Regions from separate parts of the Homo sapiens genome. Here region 2 is linked to region 1. Evidence: fine-mapped expression QTL. A gene starts in region 1. The other region holds a variant in brackets. All regions are shown on one strand. Distances are from middle to middle.

Region 1 (2,912 bases):
GGTGCGGGCAGAAAGGTGAACCGAGAGCGCACAATGCAACGAAACCGCACTCCAAATTCAGCAGTTTGCAAAGTGCCTCCAAGAAAACAGCTGGGACCTGCAATCACTCGTTCGGACTCCTAGGTTATCGGGGCCGCGGCGACTCCGCTCAGTTAGAAAGGTAGCGCGGGTGAGAGCGAACCCCAACTCACGCACAGACAGGACGAGGGCACGAAGCCGAGTCTCCTGGCTGGGGCCGTAGGGGGCGTCACCTCGGTGGCCGCTCTGCTCTCCGGAAGAAAGTATGAGCCGGTCCCAGGCCACCTCGCTCAGCCCAAGGAAGTTTCTATAACGATGCTCGCCTACCACGCAGAGGACAAATGAGGAGCCAGAGCGGTTGGGGGTCGGGCCAACCGAACTCCCGGCCCCGGCTGCGCAGCTCCCAGACGCCCACCAAGAACTCGTGCGCTGCCTGGACCTCTAGCTTTTCGCCCTACACGCAGACGCCCTCTGCAAAACCCCAGTCCCGCAGACTTTCCCTAGCGGCGGGCGGAGGGCATGAACCTGGAAAGGGAGGCAACAGCCCTCTTGGCAGGCGGGCAAAGTAAGTGTCCAGGCTAAGTCCGGGATAAAGGCTCCGCGGCTCCCCAGACCCCACTGCACCCCGAGCTCCCGGGTCCCAGGTCTTCCCCGCCCTTGCGCTGTCTGTCCACCTCCTCACATCTCTCCGGGCCGCCCAGCTTCGAAAGCAGCTAAATTAAAAACAAACAAACAAACAAACAACAACAACAATAAAAAAAAAAAAACGAGGGAAACCTGCTCCTGCCCCTCATGCCCTCAGCTCCTACGGATAGGGCGCCCTTGAGAAGCTTCTTGGGCCTTGAAGATTTGGGGGCGCGTGCCTCGAGCCCCCATCTCGGATGACCCTTCGGGCGTGAACGCTCCTTGTGCTAGGTCTCAGGGTGGCGGGCTAAGGCGTCGGGTCTCTGGGGCATTGCTTTCCTCTCCCCACTTACCTTAAAAAGATCTGTTTTTCGTAGGGAAAATAGAAAAAAATCCCTCCCCGTGGTGTGGTGTGCGAAATAGTCCACGTCCCCGGACCCTGCCAAGATGCTAAGCACCAATATCCAGGAACGAGAAGCCTGGAGGGCGGGGACGGAGGCAGATAAAAGAGAAAAATTCAATCCGCTGAAGTGTCCCAACTTTGCGGTCGGCACAGCAAACTTCAAAGGCGGGCGAGGGCGGGCGGCGCGCGGTCGCCGAAGTTGCTGCGAAGTGGAGTAGGGAGCCGCGCGGGGCTGGGGAATCCCGGGGCAGCGCCGAGAAGCGGCGGGAGGTCCTTTTAAACTGCAGGGAGCGTGCGGGGGCTGGGCGGCGGGAGGATGCCGCAGCGACCCGCGGGGCTGGCGCGGGCTTCGCCGGCCGCCGCTAGTCGCACAGGCGCCTGGCTGGAGCGCCGCGCGGGGTGCTGGGAGAGCCGGGCGCACGGGGCGGCAGCGGCCGTGGCGGGTGCGCTGCTCAGTTAGCTCCACTCTCTCGCGGCTGGAAGTGGGGAGTGTGTGTTCGCTCCCGAGTGTCACTGCTGAAGCCCGGAGTCTCTTCCCCTCCCAGCCCTAACCCCTCCCGCCTCACCGCTGCCCGCCCGCCCCCTCCCTCCTCTGCCCGTTGCCTCCCCCTCCGTCCCTCCTTCTCTCCCTCCCGCTGCGCGCCAGCGCGCACGCACACACACACACACACACACACACTCATACACATACACACACTCACACACAGACACCCTCTCCCTCCTTTTCTCTCTCCCTGTAGCCCTCCCTCCCTCTCTTTCTCTCACACACACACCACCCTGCTCAGCGACCCAGCGCTCCCCAAACAGGACCCTCGCGGGCGGCATCGCGAGGGACACGCTGCTGTCCTAACCTTAGCGCCACTCGGGGAGAATGAAGGAGGCCCACCGAGCCCCCGACAAAGCTGCAAAACCCAGGAGACGCGCACGCGGGACCATCACACTGTCAAGCAGACCGGGGTGCACAATAGAGGGAAACTCTGGGGTTGATCTGGGGGCAGGGAGGGGGACGTGTTAAATCCAGAAGGTTGGTGGTTGGAGGCGGAAAGCAGAGTGTGCAAACTGTGCATTCATGTCCCACTTTTCACCCGAACGCCTGCCTATCACAGCCTTCACTCAGGGAGCGCTTCCCCCTCGGCGCAGACCGAGCCTCCTCCGATTTGAAACTCAGCAGCTGTTTTAACAATTGAAAAAGCGGCCCTACAGGACCAGTGAAACGGAGCAGAGTGTGTGAAGCCATTAAGGCTGACTAGGTAATTATGATAAAAAGTTACCTAATTAGCAACCTGGCCTGGGCTTAGGAAAACCAAGAAAAAAAAAGTACCGAATGATTTGGTGATCTCATTTTTGCAACTGAGAACCTGATTTCCAGCAAACCTGGTTTTATATAAGTTCTAATAATATATAATTATTTATTAAGATATAGTGTCAGTATTGAAAACACTAGTTCTGTTATTGCCACAATGAAATTAAGGTAGGTAGGATGAAAATCAGCCTTATCCCGGTCATATTAAGAACTATGATCTTTTTTGCTAAACAGTTGGTCACAGAGGGTGGACCAATGCAGCTCCTAAAGTTTTGTGGTTCCTAGATGAAAACACTGCAGGAAATGGATTTATAAAACCGTTTACACGACATAAAATAGTTTTGTAAAATTTTTAAACACTGAAAAGGACATTTCAGATCACTGTGCAAGCATATTTTTTGCAGATGAGACAATGAGGTGAGAAAAGTCCTCATTGTATCTCCACTTAGGAGATACGATCTAGAGCAGATCCCTGGGTCATTCATTAACAAAGCTTACGAAGTCCCTGCTGTGTACCAGGTATGTCTTATGTGCTGAGATTTAGAGGTGATGGTGCTGCCTTTA
Region 2 (2,912 bases), 1.0 Mb before region 1:
TTTGAGCTATTTTAAGAATAATAAGATTCTTATTGAGTTAGTCTACATTGAAATAAGAAGAAATTATAATACTTAACTCCCAAAAGCAGCCAAAAGTACTCATAACATAGAAGATGAACATCTTCGGGACATTGTAGGTGTAGCATTCCACACTTACAATGCTTGCCTGCCTGACTTAGGAAAAAGATCAGGAGTGTGGGAAAGGCAGGTCATAGTTCTACTTATGCCCCAAGTACACTTGCCTGTACCTCCTGGGAGACTGGAACTTGTAGGGAGATTATTTGAAGCAATCTGGAAATGTGAATGCACCTTTCTCTTCTCTTTCTCAAAGGTCTTGTTTTCCAAAATAGTGTGTACTATCAGTAACAGAAAAAGTTATGAATATACTTATGTAAATGTTGGTTATTTATCTCTAAATTATAAACATTTTCCACAGTGTTAGGTATAGCATATGTGTTTAAATCATACCAGTTGTTCGAAATTAAGAAAGATGAGAAATACTTTTAAAATAATTCTGTTTATATTATTAGAAAATAAATTATTTTTACTTTCACTAAATATATTAATAACCATATTAAGATTTTTGCAGTGAATATGTTTCATTGCTTTTAAAAATCATGGTTTAATTATTTTTGAAAGAGTGGTTTACAAGTCTAATAATTCAGCTTATTTTAATAGTTTTTTTGTTTGTTTTGGGGGGTTTGTGTTTTTTGGCCAGCAGAGCTAAAAGAGATACACCACAAAGATATGAAGGTCCAAATGGAAGAAAGTACATTGTTGACTTCTTATTCTTTTTATTTACCTGTATTAGCAATTATGCAAAGTTTTTGCTGAAAAGGGATTATTAAATTTCAATTTAATGGTACCAATTAGGTGTTCTTACAAGCTGGTTAAAAAGTGACATATGATATTTTAATAATTTTAATGAATGTGTTCAAAAACAATGGTTTAAGCAGTTTTTTAACCCTTTTTTTTTTAAAAAAATATCAAAACAATACCTTCCTATTAGTTTGGGAACTAATTAAATGCATTGTTTGACCTTTTAGTTAGTTTTGGAACTAATTTGTAATTTAGAAAAATTATAGTTTAGAGAACTCTGTTTCCAAACTTTTCAATTGTACAGATGAGACTTTTTTAAAAAATAGTTTATCCAGGCCAGGTGCGGTGGCTCATGCCTGTAATCCCAGCACTTTGGGAGGCTGAGGAGGGCGGATGACGAGGTCAGGAGATTGAGACCATCCTGGCTAACACAGTGAAACCCTGTAAAAAAAAAAAAAATACAAAAAATTAGCCGGGTGTGGTGG[C/T]GGGCACCTGTAGTCCCAGCTACTCAGGAGGCTGAGGCAGGAGAATGGCATGAACCCGGGAGCTGGAGCTTGCAGTGAGCTGAGATCGTGCCACTGCATTCCAACCTGGGTGACAGAGCGAGACTCCATCTCAAAAAAAAAAAAAAGTTTATTCAAACGTGCTCCTTCCATAACATGAGTGTCTTTTGAAAAACGGAATGGAAGAATGTTAATTTTTCTGAAGTTCTTGTTAGCACAGTACTGCAAAGAGAAAGAGCCAGTAAATCTGGCACAGCTGACTTGCATTTCCTCAGGGTACCAATCATGGCCTATGACTCCCTTTTTTTTCTAAATTTTTAAAACTGACAAATAATAATTGTACATATTTACAGGGTGCATAGTGATGTTGTGGTCTATACAATGTATAGTGATCAGATCAGGGTAATCAGCCTATCTATCATCTTAAACATTTATAATTTCTTTGTGTTTCAAACATTCAATATCCCCATTCTAGCTATTTTAAACTATTATTAACTTGTAGGATGTAGTCATCCTACAAGTGCTGTAGAACACTAGAACTTACTCTTATCTAGCTGTAATTTTGTTTCCTTTAACAAATCTCTCTGTCCTCTCTTTCCGCCTACCCTTCCCAGCCTCTAGTATTCTCTGTTGTACTTTTTACTTCTGTGGGATCAACTTTTTTAACTTCCACATATGAGTAAGAACGTGACCTTCTGACATGGAGACTGTGTGAGTGTGCAATGTCAGTCCATTTTTTGAAATCCATTTTTTTAGTAAAGCTTATTTTCCTAGGTTAAAACATAAATTAAATAGAAGTTGTAACATTCCTTCCTATACTCCCAAAAGGATTGTTTTTTGCATATATTCCACTTTGGAAGCCACTGATTTTGAGGATGTTTGCAGAAACCTTATTGATTAGGGGATGAGGCACCTGAGTTGGGAATAGTAGTGTTCCGTGCTTGTCCTCTCTTCTAGGTAAATATGGAATAGACCTAGTTAGGATGGCTGACCTGCATGCCTATGTGGAAATTTGAAGTATCATTCTTTTTTTTTTTTTTTTTTTTCTGAGACAGAGTCTTGCTCTTTCACCCAGGCTGGAGCGTGGTGGCACCATCTCAGCTCACTGCAATCATCGCCTCTCAGGTTCAAGTGATCCTTATTCCTCAGCCTCCTGTGTAGCTGGGATTACATGCATGCACCATCACACCCAGCTAATTGTTGTATTTTTTAGTGGAGACAAGGTTTCGATGGTCTTGCACTCCTGGCCTCAAGTGATTCACCCACCTTGACCTCCCAAAGTGCTGGGATTACAAGTGTGAGCCGCCATGCCCGGCGTGAGCTATCATTCTTTATAATGGACTTTGCAGAACAATCCTGTAAGGAAAATACATTCTTATTGGGAAGGAGTGCTCCAGACTCTTGAACCCCATCTATTTACCACTGCCCAAAGCACAGAATAAAAGCCATCTTAGGGGTTTCAACAAATCCTGTCATAAAAGTCCACTTAGATCACATAAAAAAAAAAAACTTTATTACTGGTTGCATAATGAGGGAGTGTCATGGTCTTGTCTAAAAGAAGCAGGAATCTCCAAGCAATCTACCAACAGC

Alleles and levels. Alleles are on the strand shown, and positions count from the first base shown. SD is a standard deviation of normalised expression in the study named.
For the expression in tibial artery of the gene that starts at base 1,538 in region 1, allele T in region 2 goes with a higher level than allele C (small effect, 0.21 SD a copy in GTEx).

The links. PIP is the estimated chance that this variant, and not a neighbour inherited with it, causes the effect. A credible set is the group of variants that fine-mapping cannot tell apart.
Region 2: its variant is the best candidate, but not a certain one, in a credible set for the expression of NDNF in tibial artery (GTEx, PIP 0.56).

What each region holds. Positions count from the first base shown.
Region 1 is chr4:121,070,998-121,073,909 of GRCh38, forward strand. It overlaps NDNF (neuron derived neurotrophic factor), which reads right to left and starts at 1,538. Exons shown (of 4, transcript NM_024574.4): 1 at 996-1,538. It overlaps NDNF-AS1 (NDNF antisense RNA 1), which reads left to right and starts at 365. Exons shown (of 3, transcript NR_187407.1): 1 at 365-583; 2 at 2,753-2,867.
Region 2 is chr4:120,074,378-120,077,289 of GRCh38, forward strand. The region is part of intron 1 of MAD2L1-DT (MAD2L1 divergent transcript); the gene reads left to right. Among named protein-coding and RNA genes, the nearest start is that of MAD2L1-DT, 8.9 kb to the left of the region's middle. The variant C/T (reference allele first, on the strand shown) is at 1,305.